2 linked regions of the Homo sapiens genome follow. The protein of the gene in region 1 interacts with the protein of each later gene in a pairwise test. Each region holds a gene or a part of one and is shown in the gene's direction. Other genes may lie near its edges. The genes, in order: MTMR6 and AATK.

Region 1 (3,907 bases):
GTTAGTTTGCTGCAAAAATAAGTGTAAGTATTTAAAAAGCAAAAGTGGATTGTTTTAGATTTATTAGCTGTTTTGACCTCTATGTAGTTTAGTCATTAGGATCAAAATTGACCGTAGAGTGTCCTTTATGACTATTTAGTGATTTTTGTTGTTCAGTCAGCTCTATTTGAAAAGTAATAATTACCATTTATTGAGCAACTATATGTCAATATAGCCAATTATACAATATTATTACTTTATAATATGTACAATTGTATAAATCTGTTAATTTATACATTATCATCACTGATCTCTTAAATAACCCTGTCAGTTGGGTAGTATTATCTCCATTTATAGGTGAGGAGGAAATAGGCTTAGAGAATTTAAGTAACCTGCTCAATTAGTTCACAAGAGATAGAATTAGTATTTAAACTAAGGTGTGTTTAACTCCAAAGACTATGTATGCTCTTTCCAGTGCCTCTCTAGTTTTAATCTAATTGTTAAATGTGCATTAGTATTAATTCAGAAATAAATGCTGATGATAATTCTAAGAGCTTCCCCCCCAAACCTCTTTTTGTCATAAATAAATAATATTTATGCGGTATTGTTTTTAAATAATATTTAGGATCATTATTGCTTGCTAACCAGAGATTTATCAGATTAAGTATTTTAGCTGAATACTAATGAACATATTTATCATTCTGTTTTGGTCACATTTGGTTTACTAACTGTATAGCATCAAAGATGCCAAGTCCCTGAATCTGGATTTCTGAAAGAGCATTTCCAAGCTACACTTATGAATCATGCAGCTACTACCTATCGCTTTGAGCTCTCATTTTGCCATAATGACATAGTCCTGCCAAGAAACAATGAGAAATATGCAGAGACAGTTCTTTATGCAGTCTTTCTCCTTTCCCTGCCAGTACTTTGGCTGACATTATATATTGATGTCAAATGATATTGTCTTACCTGTGAATGGAACTTTACTGAATGGAATGGAAGAACCTTTTTTAAGCTATAAATGAAAGGCTGATTGCTAGCGTTTGTAATCAAATGGAATGTCCCATAAAAATCTGATCCTACTAAGGCCCAAATTGAGTTATTCCAAAAGTTATGCCTAACATGTTCTTTAGCTTGCTCCCTCTTTTTGTCATTAGAATGTGAGATCATCTATGTATGTATACAAATATACCTTCCCTCTGAAAGAAGAAAGGAGATATAAAAATAAGAATGGATCAAGAATAAGGAGAAACTGATATTATTTAAATTGTCTTTGAAATAAAAGCCAATAGGTTTTGAGGAGCACCTGAATGCTTTTTTCCAAGTAAAGTGTTGTTTTGATTTTCACTAATACTATCCCATTTTACAGGTGAGGAAACTGAAACCCTGAGAGAATTAATAAAATAACTTGTCCTGGCTCACACAGTTAGTTCTACCAAAGAAGAGGTGGAGGTGGGAACTTGAATGTAGGTCTTTCTGATAGCAAGCCTATTCTCTTAACCACACTCTCTTGCCTCACAGAATAATAATCTAATCAAGAGATTTGATTAGTCAGTTGGGGCAGTGTGAGTAAGAACAGAGAGGAGGGGTGGATAGAAGAAGCTTAGGTGGTCAGATTTTTTTCTAGTAGCTAGCTGAATGTGAGGATCTAGTGTGAGGGAAAAGGTCTGGCCTTGAGTAGATTTGGGAGGGAGTTGTTTGTGTTTAGGTAAATCATTGAAATTTCTATTGTGAATGAGTTTATGCAAGGAGAATATGTTGAGACTCTGTGGAGAAAAGTCTAAACACTTAAAAAGGGACAAGCAGGCCGGGCATGGTGGTTCACACCTGTAATCCTAGCACTTTGGGAGGTCGAGGCAGTAGGATCACTTGAGGTCAGGAGTTTGAAACCAGCCTGGCCAACATGGTGAAACCCTGTCTTACTAAAAATACAAAAAATTAGCTGGGCATGGTGGCGGGCACCTGTAATCCCAGCTACTTGGGTGGCTGAGGCATGATAATCACTTGAACCCAGAAGATGGAGATTGCAGTGAGCCGAGATCGTGCCACGGCATCCAGCCTGGGTCACAGAGCAGCACTCTGTCTCAAAAAAAAAAAAAGAAAAAAGAAAAAAGAAAAAAGAAGAGGGCGAGCAAGCAGAGGAGGAGAAGCCGGATGCATTTGGAAGAGGTGAAGCACAGATGGGAAGGTGACAGTCTTCCGTGTTCTAATTTCCTTCTCTGCTCCATCCTCTGGCTGCTTCCTCCTCCTTGGGCCAGGCACTGTTCTAGGTTCAGACAAAAACTCCTGCCCTTATAACTTATCTAGTTGGAGAAGAGGTAACAATAAACAAAATTAAGTTCAATGTATTGTATGTTAGATGGTGGTAAATGCTGTGGATAAAAATAAAGCAAGCCAGGGCTCTGAAGAGTATGAGGGTTGAGGAGGGGGTTTAAGGGAGGACTGCTATAAATTGAGTGGTTAGGGAAGCTCTTACAGAGAAGGTGACTCTTGAGTATAAACCTGAAACTGGTGAGGGAGTAAGCCATCCCCACATGGGGGATGGCGGGGAGAGTCCCAACAAAGGGAACAACAGGGGCAAAAACCCTTTGAGGGCATGCCTGGTTGCTAAGAACAAGCAAGACAGCTAGAGCAGGGTGAGTGAAGAAGAGCACAGTAGAAGATTAAAGTTGGGGGACAGGGGCAAGTTACTGTAGTCTTGAAGGCCACTGTAAAATCTTTGCTTTTTTTGAGTGAGATAGGAAGCCATTGATGGAATAAGCAAAGTAAGAAAAAACTGAAAAGTGCCCACTGGATTTACGATCTGAGGTTACTCTCTCCCCTCTTGAGGTCCATGACTGTTTCATTTGATAATTTATGCAGCCAGACACTGTTCTAGAAATTGGGATACATGAACAGAAACCATAATCTCTGCCCTCCACTTCCTGCACACAACTTGATGTGCTTTCTTTTTGAAAGCTAATTCTTGGCAGGATGTCAGTGTGAAATGATTCTGAGAGTCCTAGATGAGTGCCTGGCTATAGGGAAGGAGTGCGACAAGCCAGAGGAACAGTGATGGTGCACTTTCTGCTTCAGTAGCCACAGCGTCTATTGTTATGTAGTTGTAGAATAAGTACAACTGTTGGTCACAGAAGTCTGAAGAAGGCCATTGGTCCCTTCCTGTCCCAGAGGCCACTTTTTCCTCAGGGATAAAGAGGTGTCTGAATTTTCTGAATGTGATTCTGTTTGTGTGACTCCCTGTGTTTTTCATTTGGAATCTTTTCTTCTTTTTTTTCTTTTCTCTTCCTTTCCTTCCTTTTCCTTTCCTCTTTTCTCTTTCCCCTTTCCTTTCTCCTTTCTTCTTTGTCCTTTCTCCTGTCTTTCTCCTTTCCTTTCCAACAAGATCTTGCTCTGTCACCTAGGCTGGAGTGCAGTGGTATGATCATAACTCATTGCAGCCTCTACCTCCTGGGCTCAAACGATCCTCCTGCCTTTACCTCCCAAGTAGCTGGGTCTGCAGGAGCATGCCACCATGCCTGGCTAATTAGAAAATAATTTTCTTTTTCTGTAGAGATGAGGGTGTCACTATGTTGCTCAGACTGGTTCTCAGACTCCTGGTCTCAAGCAATCCTCCTGCCTTGGCCTCCCAAAGTGTTGGGATTACAAGCGTAAGCTACTACACCTGTAGTGGCCCCAACATTTTCTGAGTGTGATTCTGTATGTGTGGGGTTCTCTGTGTTTTCCAGTTCTAATTTTATAATTGGCTGAAATTTGAACTTTCTGCCTGGACCATTAGGGTACCTTTTAGTGCAGGCCCATAGTTGGCAACAATTCAACTAAATAGTCCTTAAAGTAATGTGTGTTGGCATTTACCATTCCTCACCAAAGCGACATCTTCCAATTCCTTTCTCCTTGCCACATTTTCGTTTTTCGTTTGTTCTTTCTTTTC
Region 2 (3,907 bases), on another chromosome or scaffold:
CACTCCAGGATCACAGCCTGCTGGCACCAACCATCCCTGCCACTGGGTGGGCACTGATCCTCCCAGCCCTCTGGGCTCCCTGAAGACACAGACTGAACGAGGTGGCCCAAGGCCTCTGAGTGCCTCCTGCGGGCAAGGCCCCCTTCAGCCACTCTACCCACGCGGCTTCTTTACCTGCAACGGCAGCCTGGCGGCAGCGCCCCTTAGAACCTTGGCTGGCCACATGATCAGGGCCAGGAAGAAGGCTCTGGGTGCCCTGTCTCCTTCTGCCCCAGGTGCAGTTGGTGTCTTGTCTCCTACAGCCAGGGACCCCTAAGGTCTGAGGGCACAGGGTGGAGGCCCCTTGCTTTGCCTGTTAGGAGGAAACTTCCTACATGAGGGACCCCCTTAGGAAAAGAAGGGTGGGTCCTGGTGCCCATCTGCCCCGTGGCCCAAGCATCCTGTCCTGGTCTCTGCAGGTCCCTCTGCCGGGAACAGGCTCCTTTCTCTCCCTAAAGTCCTAAGAGCCCTGTTGGAGTGGGCGCCTCTCACCTGCTCCACAGCCCCCAACCCCAACTGGGCCTTGCCAAGGGGCTTAGCCATCTGGTCCCAGAATGAGTGAGTGAATGAATGAGTGAGTGAATGAATGAGTGAGTGAATGAATGAGTGGATGAGGGTGCATCAAACTCAACTGCAAGTCTCCAGGACACTTTTTTTGAGACAAGATCTTGTTGTCACCCGGGCTGGAGTGCAGTGGTGCCATCTTGGCTCACTGCGGCCTCTAACTCCCAGGCTCAAGTGATCCTCCCACCTCAGCCTCCCAAGTAGCTGAGACTACAGGTGAGCGCCACCATGCCTGGCTCATTTTTCTAATTTTTGTAGAGAAAGTGTCTTGCTATGTTGCCCAGGCTGGTCTGGAACCCCTGAGCACAAGCCACCCGCCTGCCCTGGCCTCCCAAAGTGCTGGGATTACAGGCATGAGCCACTGGGACCAGCTTCCACTGAACTTTAACTCTCCCGACTCCCACGGGGGCAGGCTGGGGGGACCCTGCCCCGCCCCAACCCTGCAAGGTGGCACTTTGGGCGGGGATGGGGGATCCTGGGAGAAACATAGGGGAAGGGATGGCCCCTCAGCGCCCAGGCCAACCTGCTGCCCTAAGCACCTGGTACAGTCCACGGCAGGTGGAGACTCAGCCAGGTTCTTCCTTCATGGCTGTCGCAGCACGGTACAGGAGCAGGCCTGTGTGCAAAGCCAGCCACCCCCACTCCACCAGCACAGGTGCCACCCAAAGGGCATGGGGTGGGGGGGCGGCTGCCAGCCGCCTCGAAACCTGCAAGTGAGGCGAGGGCCCCTGAGCACCAAGACCCGCCCTGGGTGTGCTCCCGGGTTCCCCCACCTGTCTCCCTGAACCTTTCCACCTAGGAGTACCCCCTCCCCCACCCCGGCGTTCCCTCCGTACCCACTCACGACTTACCATTCACGACTTCCGTTTCCCCCCCCCCCGCCAGCCTCCGTGCCCCCCTCAGCCCCAGGCCGCCGTGCTTCCCGCTCCGGACCATCCCCCCACTCCGTGCCATCCCCGCTCCGTGCACGGCCCCCCGTCCCCCCTCCTCCATGCCTCCCCTCCGTGTCCCCCCTCCAAGCCCCCTTCTGTGTCCCCCACTCCGTGCTCCCCTCTGTCTCCCCCTCCGTGTCCCCCTCTCCGTGCTCCCCCCATGCCACCCCGGCCGCGGAGGGCCCCCCCCTCCCCCGCGCCGCTCCGCGCGCGCTCCCGCCCGCGTTTTCGGACTGCACCAGCGGAGCCCCGCGGCGCCAGGGCCGGGCGGAGCGCCTCGTCTGTCGCCGCCGCCCCCACCGGTGCGGGCTCTGCGGCTGCGGCGGGGGGCGCGGGGCGCGGGGGCCGGCGCGCTCCGCACCTGCGGCGGCCGCTGGGTGATGCGGCGGCTCGGGCCGGGGCCGCGGGCGTCCTGAGCGCAGCGCCCTCCCGGGATGCCCGCCGGCCGCTGGCCCGGCCATGTCGTCGTCCTTCTTCAACCCCAGCTTCGCCTTCAGCTCGCACTTCGACCCCGGTGAGTCCCTGGCGGCCCGGCCTGCGCGCCGCTGCCTCCCTCCGCTGCGGACGTGATGCCCCTGGGCCCCACGGCTCCCGGTTTGCATGGAAATTAACCCTTTCCCCGCCCCGAGCCCAGCAGCAGAAGCAGCCGGACCCCCTGGCGGCCCCAGATCTCGGAGGGGCAGGCCCTGGGCCCCAGCACAAACCGGCCTCCGCCTGTGGGCTGGCGTCCCCCGCGTGGTCGTGACTCCGTGGCTGCCTCCAGGGCACAGGTAACTGGGGCACGGAGGGCCTGCGTGGGCCCCTGGTGTCCAGGAGAGTTGGTCTCAGACTAAGGGCCCTTGGGGGTGTGGGGGGTGTCAGCCAGCTGGGGTTCAGGCTTTCCATGGCCTCTCCTGGGTCCGGGGCCCTGGCGTGGGAGGCTTCTTCCCAGGCTGGGAGCGATTCTCAGAGCCCTGCCCAGCCACCAGCAGCCGGCGGGGGATGTGGGGGGAGCAGGGGCCAGTCCACATTACAGAGCCCAGTGGGCAGAGGCTCAGAAGAGAGGGGCCTTGGTGGGTGCCCAGATCCCCTGACAGTGGGGGCCCGAGGTGACGCTGTCAAGCTGGCTGCAGGGGACCTGAGGCCAGGCCTCTTACCCCGTATGGCCAGTGCACCGGGCAGGGCGAGATTACCCATGGCTGCCTGGCCTCCTGGCTGTGGTGGACAGCTGGGATAGGCAGAGGGGGCTGGGGACAGCTGGAAGCCCCATCTGTCACCAGGAAGCAGTGGGCTTTCTAAAACCTCTGCTTCTCCAGATCCGGCCCCTGCTTGGCCTGAGTGGGAGATAATCCCCCTGCCCTGTGCCATCCATGGCCCCAGGGCCAAGTCCCACCCACACGTCACTGGGGCTCTGGCACCAGGCTGAGCCAGCCCAAACAAAGCCTGTTTGCATGTGACGTGATCTCCTGTGTCTCCTTCCCTGGAGCAGGGCCCAGTGCACGCAGCCTGGCAGGGAGGCACGGGGGTCCCCGGGGCAGATCTCGGTCTGAAGGCATTTGCTCCCTGGAGGAAGGGAGCTGGTGGGAGGTCTGTCTGCTGGGCTTAGGGCTGTGGGTGTCACTTGCTCAGAAATGACTTCCTGTAGTGACCCCTGGGGCTCGGAAGTCCCTGTGGGGTGGGCAGGTGAAGGCTCAGAGCCCAACAGCCACGGCAACAGCTGTAATGTCTCCCCGGCCCAAGGGCAGGGGGTGGAGGAGGCTTGGGGCAGGTCCTCATCACATCTCCATGCCAGGCGTGGCCCACGGTGCTTGGTCCTTTCTGCCCCCAGAACAGAGAGGACCCTCGGCCCATACCCTGCCTCGGGGCCCAGCCTTGTCCTTGGCCATGAGAGGCCCTTTCCCCCGCCTTCGAGCAGCACCGGCTCTGCCCTTCTCTGGGTAAACAGCTGTGATCTGAATAATTCTAATGTGTCCGTTTAATGACTTAGAGGAAAAGAAGTTGTTGGAGGCAAGGGGCGTCTCTCCTCTGCAAGATGCTGGGCCAGAGCTGCAGGCACCTGCTGGGCTCTGGGGCCCACCTACCAGGAGGGGCTGCCCAAGGTGCTGGTGCTGGTGAGGAAGGAGACCCTCCTTCGGATTAAGGGGCTGGGTCTAGGCTCTGCACCAGCCCCCATGAGAGGGTTAGGGAGGAGAGAGGGGTCTCCTGCCCTCCCGCTAAACTTAGCCCAGCCTTCCAAGCCTGGCTGTCCTGTGCTGCAGTCCCTCTGCCTGGCCTTGCCTCTGTGAACCTCGGTTTTCCCATCTATGACATGGGCCGACAGTACCTGTGGCAGGCCCGGGTGGGCTCAGTGCTTGGTGAGCACTTGGCTGTCTGTGCTGGAGTGGTGGTGCTGG

Evidence for each region.
Region 2: the proteins of MTMR6 (region 1) and AATK interact in a two-hybrid assay, tested with the Homo sapiens proteins (one study listed by BioGRID and IntAct).

Annotation. Positions count from the first base shown.
Region 1 is NC_000013.11:25,280,783-25,284,689, reverse strand, and holds part of MTMR6 (phosphatidylinositol-3,5-bisphosphate 3-phosphatase MTMR6), read left to right. Parts: intron 1-3,907. UniProt on the Homo sapiens protein: Lipid phosphatase that specifically dephosphorylates the D-3 position of phosphatidylinositol 3-phosphate and phosphatidylinositol 3,5-bisphosphate, generating phosphatidylinositol and phosphatidylinositol 5-phosphate.
Region 2 is NC_000017.11:81,164,080-81,167,986, reverse strand, and holds the start of AATK (serine/threonine-protein kinase LMTK1), read left to right. Parts: upstream 1-1,765; 5' UTR 1,766-1,994; coding exon 1,995-2,049; intron 2,050-2,239; exon of another isoform or gene 2,240-2,480; intron 2,481-3,907. UniProt on the Homo sapiens protein: May be involved in neuronal differentiation.